Linked DNA regions of Homo sapiens. The protein of the gene in region 1 interacts with the protein of each later gene in a biochemical or structural test. Each region holds a gene or a part of one and is shown on either strand. Other genes may lie near its edges.

Region 1 (7,988 bases):
CTTCGTTCGGGAGCTGCGCGAGGACTCACCCGCCGCCAGGAGCCTCAGCCTGCAGGAAGGTGGGCGGGCCCGGGGTGTGGGGCGGGGTCGAACTGCGGGGGCGGGGTTAGGAATCTGCCTTGGGTCCAAAGAGAGGCTGAAACTGACCGGGGGATGGGGGCGTGACCGGCGACCAGGAGGGGTTAAGGGCTTGGGGCGGGGCTTTGCTGACTGTTCACAGCAAATTCCGGAGGTTCACTGTCTGGGTGCGAATTTCACATCCCCCGTTTACTAGCTTGTGATCTTTCTGTGCCTCAGTTTTCTCATCTCTGAAATGGGACTTATTCTAGTATGGGGTTATTATGTATTGAGGATTTAACGAGTCAGTATGTGAAAACACTTAGCACATAGCTAAGTGGCACATAGTGCTTAACTATGTGAGTGCTAGTAAATGTTTTTGTTGTTGGGGCAGGAGAAAAGGGTGGAGTGAGCCACTTAGAGGGGTTGGGAAGAGTAAAGGATGTTTTAGGATATGGATGAAGCTGACGTGATTTATTCATGCAACAACTATTTATTAGTGCCTTCTATTTCAGACTTTATTTATTTATGTATTTTGATACGGAGTTTCTCTCTTGTTGCCCAGGCTGGAGTGCAATGGCACGATCTCGGCTCACTGCCACCTCCGCCTCCCTGGTTCAAGCGATTCTCCTGCCTCAGCCTCCTGAGTAGCTGGGATTACAGGTCCCCTCCACCACGCCCGGCTAATTTTTGTATTTTTAGTAGAGACGGGGTTTCACTATGTTGGCCAGGCTGGTATCGAACTCCCGACCTCAGGTGATCCATCCGCCTCAGTCTCCCAAAGTGCTGGGATTACAGGCGTGAGCCACCGTGCCCCACCCTATGTCAGACATTATCTTAGCTGCTTGGGCTTCAGCCGTGAACAAAACTGAACAACAGTCCCTGCACTTATGGAGCTTACATTCCAGTGGGGAGAGATTTTTTTTTTTTTTTGAGACGGAGTCTCGCTCTGTTGCCCAGGCTGGAGTGCAGTGGCGCAATCTCGGCTCACTGCAAGCTCCGCCTCCCGGGTTCACACCATTCTCCTGCCTCAGCCTCCCTAGTAGCTGGGAGGGACTACAGGCGCCCACAACCACGCCCGGCTAATTTTTTGTATTTTTAGTAGAGACGAGGTTTCACCGTGTTAGCCAGGATGGTCTCGATCTCCTGACCTCGTGATCTGCCCGCCTCGGCCTCCCAAAGTGCTGGGATTACAGGTGTGAGCCACCGCGCCCAGCCGGGAGAGACATATTTAAGCAAATTAAGTAAAATACCTAGTAAATTAGAAAGCAGTAAGTGCTACAGTTGCCAGGAGGACAATGTGCTACAGCTGCATTTTTATTATTTTATTTTATTTTATTTATTTATTTATTTTGAGACGGAGTCTTGCTCTGTCTCCCAGGCTGGAGTGCAGTGGCACGATCTCGGCTCACTGCAAGCTCCGCCTCCCGTGTTCACGCCATTCTCCTGCCTCAGCCTCCCTAGTAACTGGGACTACAGGCACCCGCCACCATGCCCGGCTAATTTTTTTTGTATTTTTAGTAGAGACGGGGTTTCACCGTGTTAGCCAGGATGGTCTCCATCTTCTGACCTCGTGATCCGCCCTCCTCGGCCTCCCAAAGTGCTGGGATTACAGGCGTGAGCCACCGAGGCCGGCCTACAGCTGCATTTTTAAATGGGGGTGGGCTTGGCTGGGTGCATAATCCTAGCACTTTGGGAGGCTGAGGTGGGCTGATCACCTGAGGTCAGGAGTTCGAGGCCAGCCTGGCCAATATGGCGAAACTCTGTCTCTACTAAAAATTCAAAAATTAGCCGGGTGTGGTGGTAGGCGCCTATAATCCCAGCTACTCAGGAGACTGAGGCAGGAGAATTGCTTAAGGTTGCAGTAAGCCGAGTTCGCGCCACTTCACTCCAGCCTGGGCGAAAGAGCAAAACTCCGCCTAAAAAAAAAAAAAAAAAGGGGTGGGCTGGAAAGGGTGAAAAGGCTAAAGGAGGTAAGGGAACAAGCTATGAGGCCATCTGGAAGAGGGAACAGACAGCAAAAATGCCCCAAGGTGGGACCATGCCTAGCTTGTGGTAGAAACAGTGAGGAAGCCAGTGTCTACGCAATTGAGTTAGTGAAGAGGAGAGTAAGAGAGAAGGCCAGAGAGGTAAGGGGAGGACACTTTTTAGAGGGCTTTATAAGACTTTGGCTTTTATTCTGTGAGGGCTGTGAGCAGGGAGAAACGTGAATTGACTGTGCTGAACTGCTGCATTAACAGTAGAGTATGGCCAAGCATTGGGTGGCTCACACCTGTAATCCCAGCACTCGGGGAAGCCAAGGCGGGAGGATCGCTTGAGCCCAGGAGACTGAAGCTGCAATGAGCCATGATCACACCACTGCACTCCAGCTTGGGCAACAGAGCAAGATTCTGTTTCAAAAACAAGGCCAACAACAACAAACAGTAGAATATATGAAGGCAGGTTTAGGAGCAGGGAGATCAACAAACTGGCTACTGTGATTATCCAGGTAAGAGATGAGGATGCTCAGGACCAAAGGGTTTTGGAGGTATATATATATTTGGATTCTGAATATATTTTGAAGGAGGAGCTTTGAGGACTGGATATTGGGTATGATGGAAAGAGGGTTGTCCAGGATGGATCTGGGGATTTTTGACCTGAGGATGGAGTTGCTGGTCCCTCAAAAGGAGCACACTGAGGCTAGTACTAAGAAAGACCAGGAGTACAGTTTGGATCTGTTAAAGGAGAGGTGTGGTGTGGGACACCCAGGTGGAGATATGATGGAGATGTTGGATGTGAGTCTAGGGTGGAGGGGAGAGTGCTGGACTGGAGAGATATACTTGGGAATTGTTAGCAGATTTATGGTCTTTTAACTTCTCAATCTGGATGAACTTCCCAAGAATTCCCAAGGGGTGACTTGAGCATGTAGACAGAGAGGAGGTCCAAGTCCTGAGGTCTGGGGTAGTGTGTCTTTAAGAGGCCAGAGAGGCTGGGTGTGGTGGCACGGGCCTGCATTTGCAGGAGGATCGCTGGAGCCTGGAAGTTCAAGGCTGCAGTGATTTGTCATTGCACCAGTGTACCACAGCCTGGGTGAAGAGTGAGATCTTGTCTTTTTTTTTTTTTTTTTTTTTTTTTTGAGATGGAATTTCGCTCTTGTTGCCCAGGCTGGAGTGCAATGGCACGATCTCAGCTCACCGCAACCTCCGCCTCCCGGGTTCAAGTGATTCTCCTGCCTCGGCCTCCCTAGTAGCTGGGATTACAGACATGTGCCAACATGCCTGGCCAATTTTGTATTTTTAGTAGAGACAGGGTTTCTCCATATTGGTCAGGCTGGTCTCGAACTCCCGACCTCAGGTGATCCACCTGCCTCGGCCTCCCAAAGTGCTGGGATTACAGGCATGAGCCACCGCACCTGGCGAGATCTTGTCTTAAAAAAAAAAGAGGAGGGGCTGGGCACGGTGGCTCACGCCTGTAATGCCAGCACTTTAGGAGGCCAAGGCGGGCAGATCACCTGACGTCGGGAGTTCGAGACCAGCCTGACCAACATGGAGAAACCCCGTCTCTACTAAAAATACAAAATTAGCTGGGTGTGGTGGTGCATGCCTGTGGTCCCAGCTACTCAGGAGGCTGAGGCAGGAGGGTCGCTTGAACCCGGGAGGCAGAGGTTGCAGTGAGCCAAGATCGCGCCATTGCACTCCAGCCTGGGCAACAAGAGCAAAACTCCATCTAAAAAAGAAAAGAAAAGAAAAGAAAGACAGACAGACAGAAAGAAAGAAAGAGAAAGAAAGGAAAGAAAGCTGGGTGAAAGAAAGAAAGAAAGAAAAAGAAAGAAAGAAAGAAAGAAAGAAAGAAAGAAAGAAAGAAAGAAAGAAAGAAAGGAAAGAAAGCTGGGTGTAGTGGCTCACGCCTGTAATATCAGCATTTTGGGAGGCTGGGGTGGGAGGATCAGTTGAGCCTAGGAATTTGAGATTGGACTGGGCAACATAGTGAGACTGTTTAGAAAAGAAAGAAAGAAATCAGGGAGAGGGAAAGCAAACATCTATGGAGACTGACAAGGAACTCCCAGAGACGCTCCAGAGGGTGTAGCACCTTGGAAGCCAAGGGAAGCAAGGATATGACAGAGAGTGAGGTTAGATCAGATGCTGAGTGGTTTAAGCAGATGAGGCCTGGGACTTGACCCTTGGACTTACTATACAGAGGTCACTGCCTGGAACCTTGAGAGGAGCAGTTCAGATGTGCGTGTTGGAAAGCAGGGTCAGAGGTGTGACTGGAGAACTGGTAACAATGCCACTGGAGAACTCAATACCTTTTGCCTATTAAGGTGAACAGATAAATGGGGCAGGAGCTCCGGGGGAGTGAGGCCATGACAACCTTTCTTATGCGAGAAATAATAATATGTTTGTATGCTGATGGGAATAATGTAGACGAGAAGGACAACTGATGACGTGGGAAGAGGAGAGAATTGCTGGAGGATGTCCCTGAGAAGGCGGTGGAGAGATTGCCCTGAGCTAGGAGTGGGGTTAGTTCATCCCCAGGAACAGGAAGGCGAATGGAGTAAGTCGCCGCAGGAGAAAGGGGGTGAACACACAGTGTGGGAGATTCTGGAAGTTCCCTTCTGATTCTGTTCTCTCGGTAAAAGAAGCAAAGTCAGTATCTGAAACGTAAGGATGGGTAGGGGAGCGACAAGGTGCGGGCGTGGCCTGAGTGGGCGCGGCTTTGTTCATTGCAGGGGGCGGGGATAAGGTCATGGGGCGGGGACTAGCGTAACTGCGACTTAATCCTGCGCTGGGGATTGGAGAAACTAAAATTTGGGGCGGGTCCTCACCGCGAGGGCTCCGTGCAAGTGGGCAGAACTAGGCCCGGGCGGAGCCGGGAGATGCCCACGTGCTGCGCACCTCCACCTCGCCCGCAGGGGACCAGCTGCTGAGTGCCCGAGTGTTCTTCGAGAACTTCAAGTACGAGGACGCACTACGCCTGCTGCAATGCGCCGAGCCTTACAAAGTCTCCTTCTGCCTGAAGCGCACTGTGCCCACCGGGGACCTGGCTCTGCGGCCCGGGACCGTGTCTGGCTACGAGATCAAGGGCCCGCGGGCCAAGGTGGCCAAGCTGGTACGCGTGCTTAGCCCGGCCCCGGCCCTGGACTGCCCCAGCGATCCGGTCTCTGCGCCGTGAGCCCCATTCCCCGCCATCGTGGGCCAGCCTTGCCCTCTGTCTTGTCACTAACCCAAGCTAATTCCACCCTCTGCCCCTTCCTCTCTGCCCCAAACTCTTCCCCGGGAAGGGGGACAGACCCACCCCAGCCCAGGGCCCTCACCCACCTCGGAGAGGCGTCCCCACCATCGGATCCAGGCTTGCTAGGGGTCCTGAACCAGGCTACTTCGAACCAGGAAAGCCAGATTCCAGCCTGAGTGCTGGCCCAATTACTGCTGAGTGGCCCTGGACAAAGTTGTTTCTCTCCCTGGGCCTCAGTTTCCCCATCTCTAGAATGAGGATGTTGGGGAAAATCCCGGATCAGGATCTAGAAGTCTTGGGTCCCCGTCCCTACACTCCTGTTGACTCATTTGGAGATCCTAGATGGCTGCCTGCTTTCCTGGGCACTCATGGTGAAATGACAGGCAAGAAGTGGGGATGATGTTTGGGGAACAAGATACTTGACCCAGCACATCCCCCGCCTGGTCCAATACCAGGTGGGGCTCTTCCTGTCCACTCCCAGCCTCCCACTGTCCCACCGCCTCCTGCCTCTCTCCTCTCTCCCCAGAACATCCAGAGTCTGTCCCCTGTGAAGAAGAAGAAGATGGTGCCTGGGGCTCTGGGGGTCCCCGCTGACCTGGCCCCTGTTGACGTCGAGTTCTCCTTTCCCAAGTTCTCCCGCCTGCGTCGGGGCCTCAAAGCCGAGGCTGTCAAGGGTCCTGTCCCGGCTGCCCCTGCCCGCCGGCGCCTCCAGCTGCCTCGGCTGCGTGTACGAGAAGTGGCCGAAGAGGCTCAGGCAGCCCGGCTGGCCGCCGCCGCTCCTCCCCCCAGGAAAGCCAAGGTGGAGGCTGAGGTGGCTGCAGGAGCTCGTTTCACAGCCCCTCAGGTGGAGCTGGTTGGGCCGCGGCTGCCAGGGGCGGAGGTGGGTGTCCCCCAGGTCTCAGCCCCCAAGGCTGCCCCCTCAGCAGAGGCAGCTGGTGGCTTTGCCCTCCACCTGCCAACCCTTGGGCTCGGAGCCCCGGCTCCGCCTGCTGTGGAGGCCCCAGCCGTGGGAATCCAGGTCCCCCAGGTGGAGCTGCCTGCCTTGCCCTCACTGCCCACTCTGCCCACACTTCCCTGCCTAGAGACCCGGGAAGGGGCTGTGTCGGTAGTGGTGCCCACCCTGGATGTGGCAGCACCGACTGTGGGGGTGGACCTGGCCTTGCCGGGTGCAGAGGTGGAGGCCCGGGGAGAGGCACCTGAGGTGGCCCTGAAGATGCCCCGCCTTAGTTTTCCCCGATTTGGGGCTCGAGCAAAGGAAGTTGCTGAGGCCAAGGTAGCCAAGGTCAGCCCTGAGGCCAGGGTGAAAGGTCCCAGACTTCGAATGCCCACCTTTGGGCTTTCCCTCTTGGAGCCCCGGCCCGCTGCTCCTGAAGTTGTAGAGAGCAAGCTGAAGCTGCCCACCATCAAGATGCCCTCCCTTGGCATCGGAGTGTCAGGGCCCGAGGTCAAGGTGCCCAAGGGACCTGAAGTGAAGCTCCCCAAGGCTCCTGAGGTCAAGCTTCCAAAAGTGCCCGAGGCAGCCCTTCCAGAGGTTCGACTCCCAGAGGTGGAGCTCCCCAAGGTGTCAGAGATGAAACTCCCAAAGGTGCCAGAGATGGCTGTGCCGGAGGTGCGGCTTCCAGAGGTAGAGCTGCCCAAAGTGTCAGAGATGAAACTCCCAAAGGTGCCAGAGATGGCTGTGCCGGAGGTGCGGCTTCCAGAGGTACAGCTGCTGAAAGTGTCGGAGATGAAACTCCCAAAGGTGCCAGAGATGGCTGTGCCGGAGGTGCGGCTTCCAGAGGTACAGCTGCCGAAAGTGTCAGAGATGAAACTCCCAGAGGTGTCAGAGGTGGCTGTGCCAGAGGTGCGGCTTCCAGAGGTGCAGCTGCCGAAAGTGCCAGAGATGAAAGTCCCTGAGATGAAGCTTCCAAAGGTGCCTGAGATGAAACTTCCTGAGATGAAACTCCCTGAAGTGCAACTCCCGAAGGTGCCCGAGATGGCCGTGCCCGATGTGCACCTCCCAGAAGTGCAGCTTCCAAAAGTCCCAGAGATGAAGCTCCCTGAGATGAAACTCCCTGAGGTGAAACTCCCGAAGGTGCCCGAGATGGCTGTGCCCGATGTGCACCTCCCGGAAGTGCAGCTCCCGAAAGTCCCAGAGATGAAACTCCCTAAAATGCCTGAGATGGCTGTGCCAGAGGTTCGACTCCCCGAGGTGCAGCTGCCAAAAGTCTCAGAGATGAAACTCCCCAAGGTGCCTGAAATGGCCGTGCCCGATGTGCACCTCCCAGAGGTGCAGCTGCCCAAAGTCTGTGAAATGAAAGTCCCTGACATGAAGCTCCCAGAGATAAAACTCCCCAAGGTGCCTGAGATGGCTGTGCCCGATGTGCACCTCCCCGAGGTGCAGCTGCCGAAAGTGTCAGAGATTCGGCTGCCGGAAATGCAAGTGCCGAAGGTTCCCGACGTGCATCTTCCGAAGGCACCAGAGGTGAAGCTGCCCAGGGCTCCGGAGGTGCAGCTAAAGGCCACCAAGGCAGAACAGGCAGAAGGGATGGAATTTGGCTTCAAGATGCCCAAGATGACCATGCCCAAGCTAGGGAGGGCAGAGTCCCCATCACGTGGCAAGCCAGGCGAGGCGGGTGCTGAGGTCTCAGGGAAGCTGGTAACACTTCCCTGTCTGCAGCCAGAGGTGGATGGTGAGGCTCATGTGGGTGTCCCCTCTCTCACTCTGCCTTCAGTGGAGC
Region 2 (7,493 bases), on another chromosome or scaffold:
TGCTGGGATTACAGGCATGAGCCACTGTGCCTGGCCGAGATTTGCATTTTAGAAAGAGCCCCCTGCCTTCCTTATAGAGTGATTCTCCAAAAGGAAGAACCTGTTGAGAAGCTGTTAGAATAGGCAGGCAGTTGCCGTGAGGATGAAGCAGACAGCATGACTCTGAGGTACATTGGAGAGGTAAAATACACTGGGCTTGATGATCAATTGGATGTGAACAGTAAGGGAGGAGAAGGAGTCAAAGGTTTCTAATTTGGGAGCTGAGTGGATAATGTTGCCAACAGCAAGAGAAGGAAGACAGGAGAAAGAGTAAATTTGCTGTGTAGGGAATAGGGGCAGTGTTGCATAATAAGCTATGCTTGAGACATATTCAGCTTTAGATGTAAAGAGCTAAGCTTAGTAAAGGAGAAATATGGGGACAAAGTTTAGATGTACAAACCAATTGATGGTTTAGAGAATGTAAACAAATGTGATGAGAATGGGTGGCAAAGATGATGCTTGCAAATAATAAGGTGATCTCTTTTAGTGTGGGGCAAAGACACACAAACCCTGATTCAAAGGGCCGGAACTGAGCATCTTTTATTCATGATGCAGATAATTAAATAACCACCATTTTTAGACTCTATTCCAGTGGTTCACAATGTTTTAGATATAAGAGGCCCTTCTTAAGACTAAAAAAAAAAAATCTCACTTCACCCACTCTCACCCACAATAGTAGCTGTACTTTTAGAACTTACCGAGTGAGAAAAACATTTATGCATTTAAAGATATGTGGACTCCTTGCATTAAGTACCCACCCCTCCTCCTCAGGAGACCATAGTCCAAAGAATGGAGATTATTACAAATCACAAGGGCACAAGAGGTTGTGGTCTAAAGGGTACTTTGTTGTAGTCAAAGTCCCTATAGATTATACAGCTATGTAGCTACTCATCCCCAAAGAATGACTGAAAATATGGCTCCTCTGTGATCAGACACCACAAAAGCATTAGTCACTTAGATTAAAAAATGAAGTACTGCTATGGATGTGTTATAAGCATAAAGGCTACAAGAGGCTTGCTTTCAGACCTCTTTTTATGTTAACATTTTTATTTTTGCTGATTATAGAAGTAATACATGTTCTTGATAGAAAAACTGGGAAATACAAAAAATAATAAGGATGAAAATAAAAATAATCTGTAATATTACCACCCAGAGATAATCATTACTAACAGCTATGAACTTTAGTTTTTCTCTGAAAAATATATACATACACTTTTAAAATAAAATCGCCATCACATGCTATCATTTCGTAGCCTGCTTTTTTCACTTGCCATTATATCATGGTCATTTTAGAATGTCATTAACTATTCCCTTAAAACATGATTTTTTTTTTTGAGACAGGGTCTCTCACTTTGTCACCCAGGCTGGAGTGCACTGGCGTGATCTTGGCTCACTGCAACCTCCCAGGCTCAAGAGATCTTCCTGCCTCAGTACCCCCAGGTAGCTGGGACTACAGGTGTGCACCACAATGCCTGGATAATTTTTTGTATTTTTGGTAGAGACGGGGTTTTGTCATGTTGCCAGGCTGGTCTCAAACTCCTGAGCTCAAGTGATCAGCCTGCCTCAGCCTCGCAAAGTGTTTATATTACAGGTGTGAGCCACCACGCCCAGCCTAAAACATGATTTTTAACAGCTGCATAGGAAGTACAGCACTGTGACTGAGGCCATGGGCACTGGCATCAGACAGACCTAGAGTCAAATCCACACTATTCAACCTATTAGCAGTGTGGTCCAGGACAAGTTAACCTCTCTGAGCCTCAGTGTCCTCATCTGCAAAATGGGGATAAATAATGATAGCATCCTCACAGAATTATTCTAATGATTAAAGTTAATAATTTAAATAACTTAGCACAGTGTCTGGCAACAATACACAACTCAATAAGTGTTAGCTATCGTCATTGTATAGTATCCCACTGAATGGATACACCATAGTTTAACAATTAGACATATGTTTATAGTTCTTCTTTTTTATAAATCAAAGTGCAGTGAACAACCTTGTGCATATTTGTGATTCTTTCCATAGGATAATTGCCTATAAGGGAGAATTCCTGGATCAAAGCGTTTATGATACATATGTCTAAATTGCCCTAGAAAAAGTTATATCATTTTACACTACTACTAGCAATGTATGAGAGTGCCAGTTTCCCAGCACACTTGTCCACAGTATGTATTCTTACTTTATTTGCCAACTTTGTAAGTGAAAATGGCATTTTGAGGATTACTTTGCGTTTCCTTAATTGCTAAAGATATTTAGCTTTTCCTCCACACTTTTAGTGGTCGTTTGTATCTCTTCTTTCATCAACTATCTCTTTTCTTCTCTTTTGAGATTCATTTCTCTCCAGATTATAAGATTCTTTCTTATTCCTCTACTGACCTGATGCTAGGTTAAGGCTTCACAAAACAAAACTAAGATAAACCAAGGAGTCAGAGAATTCAGACCTTCTAATCCTAACACAGGCAGAAAAGGAATAGATTTCTTCTGGTCCTAAAATGACTATCCTCTGCTCTTTTTAGACTTTGCCCCTGACTGTGACCTCAAGTCATATTGCCTCTCTAGGCCTTAGTTTGCTAATGTATCAAGTGTTAATGTTTAAGGGTTGCTAAGCACCAAACACTATCATTCTCTGTATTCATATAGCATGCCTTTGTAGTCGGCTGTGCTGTCTTTCATGATCCTCAGTACAACCTAGTAAAGTTGTCCCAGTCAGAATTAAGATCCCACTTTACAGATGAAGATGCTGAGACACAAGTGAACCAGGGCCTCCTGATTCCTGGGCGAGTACTCTTTGTTATACACAAAGATTCTTCTGCCTCTATCTAGCTCCATCCTATCTCAAATCACCATCTGCACATACTGATTTTTTTCCTATTCCTCTTTTTAATTTGCAAAGGCTATGAGAGATTGAAGATGAATCAGACTTGGTCCCCAACTGGTCAAATGTAGGAAACAAGACATATAAACAAACAAAAAAAAGGATAATTTTAGCGGGGAAAATTATTCATACCATACGTGGGTGCTGTGGTTTGAATATCTGTCCCCAATGTGACAGTATTGAGAGCTGGAGCCTTTAAGAGGTGATGAGGGCTTTGCCCTCATGAATGGATTAATCCACTCATGGATTAATGAATTAATAAGTTATCACGGGAGGAGAATTCATGGCTTTATAAAAAGAGGAAGAGATATCTGAACTAGCACACTAAGCCCTCTAGCCATGTGATACTCCGTGCCATCTTGGGATGCTTCAGAGAGTTTATGACAGCAAGAAGACTCTCACCAGATGCAGCCCCTCAAACTTGGACTTCTCAGCTTCCATAACTGTAAGAAATAAATTCCTTTTCTTATAAATTACTCAGTTTCAGGTATTCTGTTATAAGCAACAGAAAATGGACTGAGACAGCAAGACACAGAAATTATGGTATAAGAGGTCACAGAGGAGGAAGTGTTCACTTCTAGTTGGAGGGATTTGGGATGTATTTATGGAAAAGAAGCTTTCGAGCTAAGGTGAAAGAGAAGATTTTGACATATGCAGGTGTGGAGGATGCTTTTTGGGTGGCAATAAGCCTTCCCTGCCCTCCCCTAGGGACCCTGCTGGATACCAAACTGTGGCTTTTTGCTACTACAAATACTCTTCCTGGTTCTAAAAGCCATACACAGGCTGTTTGAGGAGGATTCAGTGGGAAGGCATTGTTTCTCTTGAGCAGAGATAAAAAGCTTTAAAAACACAGGGGAGATATTAGGATTTCAGCATGAAAGCAAGATTGTTGGCTCATGGGGGACAAAACCCACACCTGATATTTATTTATATCCCACATATTTTTAACACAGTGCTAGGCACCCATAAACTGGAGATGTATAGGAACATATGCTACTTAAATTTGTGTGGAATAATGTACAATGTTAGCATTTGAAACAAGTACAATAATAAGTACAATGTCAGCATTTGAAACAAGGCTTGAAATGGCAAAAAAAATTGCAAAAACTTAAACGTCTATCACTAGGGGACTAATTAAATAATGGTGTATCCATACAATGGAATTCTATACAGCTACTTAAAAAATAATTAAGAACTCTTTATATGCCAATACAAAATGATCTCTTATGATATACCTTAAGTAAAAAGAAAACAAGAGAAAAATCAAGGTGGTGGTTAGTCTACATTTGTATACTAAAAATATGTGCTTATAGATGCAAAAAAATATCTTTGGAAGTATACAAAAGAGCCTGTTACCATTGGAGAAGGGAACTGAGCAGTAAAAATTCTCCCCATGTCTTTGGGATTTCTACTATTTCTGCCCTTTTCAAAATGAGAAATATACCTATAAAAGTACATAAAGCATATATGTAAAGTATATTAAATTATTATAAAGTAAATTCATATAATCACTTCTCAGGTTGAGAAACAGAATTATTCCCCACACCACATAAGCCCCATGTTGCCAATAGGAGATAAAATTTTTTACTAAATATCATTTTGTACTTTTTGAATTTTGACCCATGTGAACACATTACCTATTTAATAACAGCTAATTCTTCGCCCCCTCTCCGCTCCCCACCAAAATACAAGGAGGTCAACAACTATTTTATGGAAAGATTGGTGTGCCAGCTTTTCCATAATCAAATAAATAATAACTGTATTCTGTGTTTTATATATATTAACTAAGCAGTCTACATACATTAACTCATTTAATCCTTACAACAACCCTATAAAGTAGTTACTATTGCTATCCTCATTGTGTGGATGAGAAAATGGGGGCACAGAGATGGTAAGTAACTTGTTCAGAGTCATATTGTGAATACATCGTGAAGAGCTGGGATTTGTACCCAGGCAGTTGTGTCTCAGAATACAAGTTATTTATCATTATGCTATTCTGCCTCTGTAAATTCTAGAACCCAGGCTCTGAGGCATTGTAATCACTGATACCTGGAAAGTGTATCCATACAATGGATACAATGGAGACAATTTTTGGCTATAGACCACCAGGTGCGAGCCCAAGCATTGACTCAGTTATGCCACTACCCAGGCAAAGACACAAGCAATTAAAAACAGATAAGATGCAGTGAGTCTAATGGGGCAGCACCAGGCTGGCAAATCATGAAAAGCACTTAAGTGACCTTTATAGGACATCTGAGAAGTGAAATTCTGGTCAAGTCTCCTATTTTAAGCTCAGAGCCTCCCCAATGCCTAGAGCTCAATAAATTTTTTTTTCAATAAATAAGCTCTTTCCACCTAGAAACCAGAGAAATCTAAGAGCCTATGTTACAAAAAGACCTCCAGAAGTGGACAAAGATGTTTGCTGCAGTATTGTTTGCAATAGCAAAAATCTGCATTCACTCAAATGTCCACCAGCGGGGGACTGGTGAGTAGACTATGTCTGAGACATATCACAGCATTATTGTCTGGGACATAGGCTCTGAACCAGGATGCTCTGGCTTGCACCTTGGCCACTTATCGGCACATATATGGACAAGCTCCCCAACCTTACTGTGCTCCAGTCCCCACATCTGTGAAACAGGGATAACAAAAAGACCTACCTCTTAGCTTTGTTGAGAGGAGTTAATTCATAGTTTCTGGCATTTAGTAGATATTCAAATGTTATCTATTACGATAGCCACTCACACGGCGAATATTATGTAGCTGTTAAAAAGAAAGAGGTAGATCTATATGCACTGATTTGGACAGATTTCAAAGTTATATATTTTAGGCCAAAGAAAACAAATGCCAGAATAGCATGCTTAGTGGAACTCCAATTTTGTAAAAACATTTTTAAAAAATCTACTGTGCGCATGCGCAGAAAGGAAGCCTGGACATCCGGGTTTTTTGGGCTTTTTTTTGTTTTTTTTTTTGAGACGGAGTCTCGCTCTGTCGCCCAGGCTGGAGTGCAGCTGGAGTGCAGTGGCATGATCTCGGCTCACTGCAACCTCCGCCTCCTGGGTTCAAGTGATTATCTTGCCTCAGCCTCCCAGCCGAGATTGTGCCACTGCACTCTAGCCTGGGTGACATAGCGAGACTCCATCTCAAAAAAAAAAAAAAAAAAAAAAAAAAAAAACAAAAAAAACCCAGCAAACATTTATTATTCTTGGGAGAAAAAATTCAAGAGATAGGGAAGACTTCTAAGATGTAGAGGTTCTGTAAAGAACAGGGCAATGGGAAGGCGACCCCCTTCCCATGGGCTACAGAATCCTCTCCCCAATCCAAGGTAACACTGTGTAACTGCCTTTTCTCTCATACCACTGGCTTTCTACCTGACAGCATGGCAGTAAGAGAGAAGATACACATTTCACTGGTAACAAACTTTGTTATAGTTCCTAAAATAATTCCTGCAATGCACCCAAAAAACCAAGGTTCTGCTTCAGATGTACCTGATTTAATGAATAAATCATAGAAACTCAGATTTTCAAGCTAGAAAGGACCTTTGAGATCATCTAGGCCAATCCCCTCATTTACAAATGAAAACAAGGAAACGTATTCCTGAGAAGTTTAGCTGTCAAGCAATTTTGAGAAATAAAATTTATTATCCAATTAAAAAATCAGAGATGCATCCCCATGGGAGAAAACTCTAAGAGCCAATTAATGCAATAAACCTGAAACCTTTATACACTGATGGTGGGAGTGTAAGTTAGTAAACTATTTTGCACAGTGATTTGACAATATCTCCCAAAGGTGACAATGCACATACCCTGTAAGGGGACAATTCCACCCAGATATTTACCCAGTAGAAATTGTCACCTAAGAATAGCTACACAAGAATGATCACAGTACCTCTGTGATTGCTCAAAACTAGAAATAGCCTAAATGTCCATCAACAGCAGAATAGATAAAGTGTGGTATAGTCATTACAGGAGTATACAATAGTGAAAAAAATGAGTAAACTAGAGACCCGTGTTACAACATGGATGCTTTTCACAAATATAACATTGAATAGAAAAAATAAGTTTCAAGGCAGGTGCAGTGGCTCATGGCTGTAATCCCAACACTTTGGGAGGCTGAGGCAGGAGGACTACATGAGGCCAGGAGTTTGAGATCAGCCTGGACAACATAGCAGGACCCTGTCTCTATGAAGGAAAAAAAATTAGCTGGGCATGGTGGTGCCACCTGGGGGGTGGTGAGGCTGGAGGATTGCTCCAGCCCAGGAGCTCGAGACTGCAGTGAGCTATGATCACACCACTTCACTTCAGCCTGGATAACAGTGCAAGATCTCGTCTCTTGGCGGGGAGAAAAAAGAAAAGAGAAATCACGTTGCAGAAGAATACGTATGATACACCACTGATACAAACTTTTAAAACATATAAAGCAGTAGTATATGTTGTTTAAAAATATATACATGTGTAGTAAAAGTATATAAATCAATGCATGGGAATAATAAACACCAAATCCAGGATAGTGGTTACTTTGGAAGGAAAGAGAGAACTTTAATCATGGAGAATAGACAGAAGGTTTCAACTCTACTGGTAA

The links. Proteins that work in one complex are often made in the same cells at the same time.
Region 2: the proteins of PRX (region 1) and DRP2 form a complex in vitro, tested with the Homo sapiens proteins (one study listed by BioGRID).

Annotation. Positions count from the first base shown.
Region 1 is NC_000019.10:40,395,777-40,403,764, reverse strand, and holds part of PRX (periaxin), read left to right. Parts: coding exon 1-59; intron 60-4,460; exon of another isoform or gene 4,461-4,508; coding exon of another isoform or gene 4,509-4,590; intron 4,591-4,948; coding exon 4,949-5,145; coding exon of another isoform or gene 5,146-5,208; exon of another isoform or gene 5,209-5,794; coding exon 5,795-7,988. UniProt on the Homo sapiens protein: Scaffolding protein that functions as part of a dystroglycan complex in Schwann cells, and as part of EZR and AHNAK-containing complexes in eye lens fiber cells.
Region 2 is NC_000023.11:101,222,786-101,230,278, reverse strand, and holds part of DRP2 (dystrophin-related protein 2), read right to left. Parts: intron 5,676-7,493; 5' UTR 5,573-5,675; intron 1-5,572. UniProt on the Homo sapiens protein: Required for normal myelination and for normal organization of the cytoplasm and the formation of Cajal bands in myelinating Schwann cells.